Regions from separate parts of the Homo sapiens genome. Here regions 1 and 2 are each linked to region 3. Evidence: fine-mapped expression QTL. A gene starts in region 3. Each other region holds a variant in brackets. All regions are shown on one strand. Distances are from middle to middle. Region 1 overlaps DGKD (diacylglycerol kinase delta). Region 2 overlaps DGKD (diacylglycerol kinase delta). Region 3 holds the start of DGKD (diacylglycerol kinase delta).

The links. PIP is the estimated chance that this variant, and not a neighbour inherited with it, causes the effect.
Region 1: its variant is the best candidate, but not a certain one, in a credible set for the expression of DGKD in vagina (GTEx, PIP 0.70).
Region 2: its variant is the best candidate, but not a certain one, in a credible set for the expression of DGKD in blood mononuclear cells (TOPMed, PIP 0.74).

Annotation. Positions count from the first base shown.
Region 1 is chr2:233,469,049-233,471,720 of GRCh38, forward strand. DGKD (diacylglycerol kinase delta) reads left to right here. Exons shown (of 30, transcript NM_152879.3): 30 at 323-2,672. The coding sequence ends at 412. Among named protein-coding and RNA genes, the nearest start is that of USP40, 96 kb to the right of the region's middle. The variant C/G (reference allele first, on the strand shown) is at 1,389.
Region 2 is chr2:233,457,514-233,460,185 of GRCh38, forward strand. DGKD (diacylglycerol kinase delta) reads left to right here. Exons shown (of 30, transcript NM_152879.3): 22 at 771-884; 23 at 2,244-2,378. Among named protein-coding and RNA genes, the nearest start is that of DGKD, 100 kb to the left of the region's middle. The variant C/T (reference allele first, on the strand shown) is at 1,681.
Region 3 is chr2:233,352,959-233,355,630 of GRCh38, forward strand. It overlaps DGKD (diacylglycerol kinase delta), which reads left to right and starts at 1,536. Exons shown (of 30, transcript NM_152879.3): 1 at 1,536-1,716. The coding sequence starts at 1,561. RefSeq lists enhancers at 986-1,045, 1,186-1,235 and a silencer at 1,486-1,725.

The sequences.
Region 1 (2,672 bases), 120 kb after region 3:
AGGGCAAAAGGCCACTGTGGGTGTCCTGGACAGTGGCTCTCATGAGGTCACTTGTCATCCACTTGCTTTTAGGCCTGTGTTTTGTCTTTGTCTTGGATTTGTCCTTGCTGATGGTAGTGACTAGAATGCAGGAACAATGGGCCAGGCATCTGTATGGTTGTTACTTTTAAGCTGTTTCCATCTTGTTTTACCGTTTTTGTCATTTTGGCTCTCATTTGTGTTCACAAGCCGAATGGGAAGGGCCGTTGTGGCAGGCCTGCTGTGGAGCCCTCTGGCCCTGGCTGTCTTCTCGGCATCCATGGCGGTGTCTTCTCTGTTGCAGGACCTGGGCGTGACCAAGGTGGGCCACATGAAGAGGATCCTGTGTGGCATCAAGGAGCTGAGCCGCAGCGCCCCCGCCGTCGAGGCCTAGCCTCTGTCCTCTCAGCCTGTGGCCTCCACATCCCCGCCGCCGAGGCCTAGCCTCCGCCCTCTCAGCCTGTGGCCTCTGCGCCTCCTGCCACTGAGGCCCTGGGCAGATGCTGCAGCCCGCCCCCTTCTCATGGTGCTACTTCCTCTGTCAGCTACAGAAAGCCTCCGTGACACCGTCCACCAGAGCTCTGGGGTCTCGAACATAACAACACAGCTACCTTTGAAACAACACTTTCTCCAGCTCAGAGTCACCTGGGGCACATGTGTCACGGCCACTCAGCTCTCGCCCGCCTGTGCTGTGGGCCAGGGAATCCAGCGGCGTCTGGCCTCCTGGGCACTGCTTGCCTGGCCTCGTGCTTGGATTGTCCCGGGGGCTCCTCTCCGTGTGTCCTTCTGTGGCCGCACCGTGTGGCTCCGCCTCCTGGCCCCCAGCCAGTTCTCAGAAACGTGGCTGGGGCCCAGCACAGCAGCCTGCAAGGGCCCCTGTTTGTTGATGCAGCTTTTGTTGAACAAAAATCGTGCTCTTTCCTGGTTTGAAAGTAGCATGGATGTTTCCAGTCTTGTTGATTGTAATTTGACGTGAAGAGAAAAAAAAATTCCTCCTGCGTGAGCCAAGGCAGCGGGTGCTGTTTCCCAGGCGGGGAGCCCCTCCCTGGGTGTCACAGGGCCTGTGCTCCTCCCTCCTCCATCCTCTCTCCTCCCGCTCCTCCCTCCCCCCACTGTGGGCTGGGGACGCCTGCCCTTCTGTCTCCGGACGCTCTAGGCGAGTTCAGCTTGGGGTGTGAGTGAGACAGCTTGCCAGCTGCATCCCTGCAGACAGAGGATGTGTGTCCACATGAGTGTTTCTGTGTGGGAAATGCTTCCTGGCTCTGGGAAACTTTTTCTGCCCATTCTGTGGTTCCCAGGGAGCGTGGCCCTGGTGGGCCAGGGGTGGTTTGACCTCTTCAGCCCGTCCGGTGGCCTGGAGGCCGGAGGCT[C/G]TCCTGAGTGTCTGCCCCTGCAGTGGCTTCTTGTCGCCTGCTGCTGGGCGTGATGTCGCTGGAGGTGCTGGCAGGGACTCTGATTTGGTGGTCCGCGCTGCCCCTGCCCTGCCTCTGTCCTGGCTCTGAACTAGTAGATGATGGTGCCAGAGGGCAGGGAGCTCGCCTGGGGAGAGGGCTGTGCCCCGTAGGGACAGTGCCCAGGTGAAGGATGCCCCTGGTCCTCCAGGGCACTGACTTTGCCCTTTTTTCCCGTTGATAGTCATGGCTCAGAGGTGCTTGTAAATGTCTTGGGAAGAGGTTTCTGTAACCCCTGCCCTGGTGTGAGGAGGAAATGGCTCTGGCCTGGCTGCCTGGCCGTGGCTTCTCTTTGGCTCCCAAAGAGAAGGACAGTGTTGGGAGTATCTGCCGTGGCTTCTCTTTGGCTCCCAAAGAGAAGGACAGTGTTGGGAGTATCTGCCGGCGCTGTCCAGGTCCTTTAGTCAGCGTCACTCCATCTGATGTGCAGAAGCTGGGCTGCACCTGCGGGGGTGGGCATAGACCGGGCTGGGTCTGCAGCAGCCCCTGGTCCTGAGCAGGCGGCAGTGAACAGCACTGGCCCACCTCCCACTCACAGCCCCTCTGTCCCCTCTGCAGTGCACCCAGGTGGGCCCCTCTGCGTGCCTTTGGGTGCTCCCCTCTCGTGGTCGTTCTGGCCCGAGGCCCTTAGAGTATGGAGGCTGAGCCAGGCCTTGGGTTTCCCCAGCACAGCCTCCTGTCGCTGCATGCGACGTGTTGGGATTTTTGGATGAAAGACTCTCCCACGCTCTGTTGGTGGACTTAGCTGCCTCACTGGAAGTGATGTGGGTGGAAGGTGGTTGTATGTTACCTTTTCCACCTCTCATTGTTTTCCCCAGAACATTGTAGATGGGGGTTGGCAGAGGGAGAAATAAGCCAGCCACGGCAGTCGCTTGGTTTCCCAGGTGGAATGGGCTAACACAGGAGATGATGGGAACCTGTCCCGCAGTCCCTGCATGACCATTGGCCCTGCTGGCCTGGCGATGTGGGCATCCTGGGGTTCTTAGGGTCCCAGAACAAGCCCCAGGCAAGCTGGAACTTGGGTGGGGAGGGGACATGAGGAGGATAAACAGCTGACTGTGGCTTCAAGGACATCAGGGCCACCCCAAGTCCTCAGTGTCCTACTCCTGGCAAGGAGTTGGGTTTGGATCAAAAGTGTTTAAAATTAATATGTTGTCAGTGATTAGAACAACACTGTTTACATAAAAACCATTTTTCTAATTCTAA
Region 2 (2,672 bases), 100 kb after region 3:
AGTTGTGTCAGTGAAGGTGGTCAGTGAGGGTCTGTGGTCAGCAGATGTGGTCAGCGGGTGTGACGTGGAAGGAGGGTCAGGGAAGGTGTCTGGGAGGCCAAGACCTGAAGGATGAGTTGGAGTTGGCTAAGTTAGGTGGGCAGAGGAGAGGGGGAGGCTGTTCCAGGCAGAGAGAATTGCACAGATGAAGGCTCAGAGTCAAGACAGGGCAGGCACATGGAGGATGGGAGAGAGGTGCCCCGACTGCAGTGGGCAGCAGGGGCGTGGAGAGACAGGAGAGGGCTGCAGGGCCTGGGTCACACTGGGCTGTGTGAGCTGGGGAAGAAGTTTGGAATTTGTGTTAAGAACTGTGGGAAGGTGTTGATAGGTTTAAACCTGGTTTAAACCTTCCTTTGTACGTAATAGCGAATAGAAGTATTCAGCGCTTCCTGCACACGTGGTGTGTGCTGGCCCCAGTCCTGGCACTCTGCAGCGTTAACTCACTTGGCCCTACTGATGGCCCTGGAGGAGCGTGCCGTTAGTTTCCCCATTTTACGCATGAGGAAATGGGGGAGAGAGAGATTCAGTAACTTTGCCGAGATGAGAGCTGGGATTTGGTCCCAGGCAGCTGGTTTCAGGGCCTGCAACATGAAGCCCGTCAGGAGTGCAGTTACCTGGTAACTTCTCGCCAGCTAGGAGGGGCTGACCCCCAGAGGGAGGGAGTGAGGGTAGGGGCGGCCTGTGCTCGGGGATGTGTGGAGTGGTGGTCAGCTCTAACGTGTCCCTTGCAGACTTTCGCAGCTCCATCATTCGATGACAAGATTCTGGAGGTGGTCGCCGTGTTCGGCAGCATGCAGATGGCCGTCTCTCGAGTCATCAGGCTACAGCATCATCGGATCGCCCAGGTAGTGGCCATGGTCCTGGGGTGTCTGGCCGAGTCCCCAGCCCGGAGTGTGCTAAATTCTGGGGCAGTGCATGGAGCCTGGGAGGGTGGGCGCTTTCCAGGGCCATGTGGCTGCCTCATGTCCTGTCCTGGACAGCTCGTGGCCCCACTTCCTGGGCCAGAGCCCTTTCCTTGTGCTATGCTTGACAGTTAAATTCTCAAGATAACTCTTTTTAATTTTTTTTTTTTTTTTTGAGACAGAGTCTTGCTCTGTTGCCCAGGCTGGAGTGCAGTGGTGCAATCTCGGCTTGCTGCAACCTCCACCTCCCTGGTTCAAGTGATTCTCCCGCCTCAGCCTTCCGAGTAGCTGGGACTACAAGTGCCCACCACCATTCCCAGCTAATTTTTGTACTTCACCATGTTGGCCAGGCTGGTCTCGAACTCCTGACCTCAAATGATCCACCCACCTTGGCCTCCCAAAGTGTTGGGATTACAGGTGTGAGCCACTGCACCCGGCCAAGATAACTCTTTCAAAATGTGTATCCTGCTTGAACCACAGCCTTGCCTGTCCCCTCTGAGGTGGGATGAGATAGAGCAGACCCAGGCTGGACTCTGCCCGTGTCTGCAGCTGTCAAAGCCGCAGTGGGGACGGAGCCCATGGCTCTGATGTGGGGTGTGGGAGGATTTCCAGCTGGGGCCCTCGATCATGGTTCTGAGGCCGAGTGGTGAAGGGCTGGGGGTGCCCCCATGGCTTATTTCTGACAGCAGCGATGGGCTGAGGGCAGTCTTTCTGTGAGGATGGGGCAGGACTCTGTACC[C/T]AGGCACAGGCACTGGGGCGGGGGAGGGTGCTGATGACACCCACTGGCTGAACCCCACCCTGCGACTGTCTGGTGTCTTCCAGCACTCTGTCTACCCTTAGCTGTAGGCTGCTTGAAGTTCACAATTTTCACTCTTTGGCAATGTTTGTTGTTGAAAAGGAGGAACGGGATGATGATGGATGGCTCATCGTCATCCACTGTGCCATCTGCTCTTTTCTAGGGGTGTTTTCACGTGGCAGGGGCCCAGTGGCTTCTGGGAGCTACAACACCCCTGCCCCTGGGTTCTGACACCTGTTGTCTCAGCACCAAGGTCTCCTGCACTGACTGCTCAGTGAGGGGATGGGGCGGGATGGGGCGGGACAGTGGGAGAACAGACCCTCGGTTGAGTGACACAACAGCAGAAGGCTAGCTGCAGGCGGAGCGCCATCCCAGAGGCAGAGGTGGGGTGTCCTGCAAGGCAGGGACGGGTGTGTGGAGCAGGAAGGTCATGGTGGTGCTGATAGCACTTTTAAACCCCTGGGGGTTTTGGCTCAGCATGAGTAATGGCTATGATGTCTGCTCAGTGTCGCACGGTGAAGATCTCCATCCTTGGGGATGAGGGCGTGCCTGTGCAGGTGGACGGAGAGGCCTGGGTCCAGCCGCCAGGGTACATTCGGATTGTCCACAAGAACCGGGCACAGACACTGACCAGAGACAGGGTAAGAGCGGCTGCCCGCGGTACCTGGGTGGGGTACAGGGCTCACCTGTGGGCTCTTGTGTGCACTGTTAAGAGCTGGAGCTTTTTGTGTTTTGTTCTAGGATTTTTTTTTTTTTTAAGACACAATGATTAAGCTAATAGGGCAGTAATTTCTAGGACCATCTCCTTCCCCTAATGTTAAAAAAAAAAAAAAGTCCTATTTGTCTCTTTCTAGTTGTGATCTCGTTGGCATCCCCATAGTGTCTGTCGCAGTCAGATGCATGCTTCAGAGCAGCAGGTGTAATTGGGCTTTCGG
Region 3 (2,672 bases):
CAACATATGAATTACGGGAGGACACAGTTCAGCATGCGACTGTGCTGCAGAACTTTCTGGGGGGACGGGGGAAGTGTTTTATATTTGTGCTATCCAGCGTGGCAGCTGCTAAGCCACATGCGGCTACTGAGTCCCTGAAATGTGGCTCCTGTGGCTGAGGAACGGAATGCTGAATTCTAACTAATTGAAATTTAAGTAGCCACATGTGGCTAGTGGCTATAGTACCCTGGGGCACCATGGGGCCTTCGGCCTGTCCCGGACTGTTCCTGCCTTAGGCCTTGTCCTCCTCTGTCCTGGCCGTGAGCCCATGCCCCTGGCCGTGTCCCCATGCCAGATGCCACTCTGCAGCCCCAGGTCACTGCCCAGGGCGGCGCGGCCAGCGAATGCCTATTGGCAGGCGAGGTCTCTAGCGGCAGCCCTTTGACAGGGAGAGGGCACACCTGGGCAGTCCCTTACTGATTTGCCCCTCAGAGCAGGGCAGACAGATGGACAGCATTTCCTCTGGGTGGCACCAAGCCCTGCTCCACCTGGATGGCACCAAAAACTTAGCTGATCTCATCTCCAGCTTCGCTTCCTCCTCTTCTGCCCAGAGCAGCGCTGGACCCCACCCGCCCACCATCCAGCAGCCCCCCTGGGAAACATGGGACTCGTTCTGGTCACCTCTGTCTCCCTCCAGTCGCTGGTCACTCCCCACCTGGATCTCAGTCCACGTCTCTATCTCTCAGCCCCTCGGTAATCCAGGGCGTCCACCTGCCCTGATAACTTCAAAGCCCGGATCACAGGCCCCAGCGTGGTGACCCAGCCCCGCCCAGGGTTAAATCCCTCAAGGGCTTCCTGCTGCCTTCCATCCCCTTATCTGGTTTCCAAAGCCCGCTTCGACCTGCCCGCCCCGAGGCTCATATCTTAATGCCATTTTCCTTGCTCTAAGCACCAGCTTCCCTTTCTTCCCCCGTCTTCGCCCAACACTCGTTCTTTCTTGCCTCCAGGCCTTTGCACAAATCTGGTCTCTGCCTAGAACATGGTTCCCTCTCTAGTCACAACTCCTGCTCACATTTTCCATCTCTCCTTAAGAACCGTTTTCTCCAGGAAGCCTTCCCAGATGGAGCGGTGCATCCCAGCTCTGGCGTCCCGAGGCCCGTCCCAGTACCGGGGTCTCTTTCCAGCACGCGCGCGCGCATTCGAGCTCGCCCCAAACTCGGCCACACAAGGCTGGGCAGGACAGACACAGCCCCAGCCTGCCTGAGGTTACCTACATTCTGATGCGGAAGAGTAGAGATGTTTTAAGAAGTGAATATAGAAACAAGAACACAAACGGCGTTCCAGAAATAACACACAGAAGCCACGGCCCGGAGAGGTGGGCGGGGGGCCCGGGACGCTTCAGGTGGGGGCGGGGAGGGGCCGCGCGGCGCCGTCTGCAGCTGCGCGCATGGCCGGCAGGGGGCGCGGCGGGGAGAGGCGGGAGGCCGCCCCCACCGCCCCCGGCCCGGCCCGCCCTCGGCCCCGCCCCTCCCGCCGGCCCCGCCCCGCCCCCGCCCGCGGTGCGCGCGCTGGCCCGGCAGCATGGCGGCGGCGGCGGGCGCCCCTCCGCCGGGTCCCCCGCAACCGCCTCCGCCGCCGCCGCCCGAGGAGTCGTCCGACAGCGAGCCCGAGGCGGAGCCCGGCTCCCCACAGAAGCTCATCCGCAAGGTGTCCACGTCGGGTCAGATCCGACAGAAGGTGAGCCCGCGGCGCGGCGGCCCGGGCGCGCGCCCCTCACGCCGCGGCAGCCCCGGCCGAGGCCCGTGGCCCTGCCCGAGCGGCCGCCCAGGCCCGGCTCGGCCCGGCCCGGGGTCCCGCGGGCGTCACCGCCCCTGTCGAGCGTGCCCCGCCGCTGTAACGGGCCGGCGCCCCGGGCGGAGCGCGCGGCCCCCGACGGACGGCGGGCGGCTGTGGGGCCGGGCGGGGGGCGCGCAGGTGGGCGCCCCGGGCGCCGCGCGCTGGGCGGGGGGCGCGCGCCGAGTTGGGCCGCGAGGACCCGGAGGAAACTGAGGCCTAGATGCAGGGGACTGCGCTCGTGCCACCGAGCGGGTCCCACGCGGGGGCTCCCGGCTGCGCCCCGCGGGCGTCCGCGGTCCCCAAACCCCGGTTCTGCACGTTTCTCAGGAGCGGTCGGGTGGTGTCCCGCGAGTGCCCTGCAGACTTCCCTGTGGTGCCCTCAGAAGTCCGCTCGGACCCGGGTGCGAGGGATCACCCCTTCACCCCTTCATCCCAAAAGGGAAGGAAGGGATGCGCGTTCAGTGACCGTCTCTCTCAGCAAAGCCGGGACCGCGCACCCGCTTGGCACCCAACTCTCCACGGAGAACTCCTGACGCTAAATGTTAGATAAAGACGCACGTCCTTTTTGCAGGAGGAAAGTTGCACCGTTTGTTTTCCCATTGTGCTTCCTATTGAAAACAGCTTACGGTTTTTGCTCCAGGTGAGCCCGCCCGGTTAGAACACTGCTTCCTCAGGCAGGTGGCTGGACAGGTGGCTGCGAGCAGGCTGGGTCCCTGGGGCAGCTCTGGCAGATCCGGTTGGCACGGACTTTCTCCTCCTGCTGCAGTGCGCTTTTCCTCCGGGGCGGATTAGGTTCAGCCGTTCCCTTCACCGTGGGAGCCTTCTCTTCTGTCAGCCTTTGATACCTGCGATGGGGG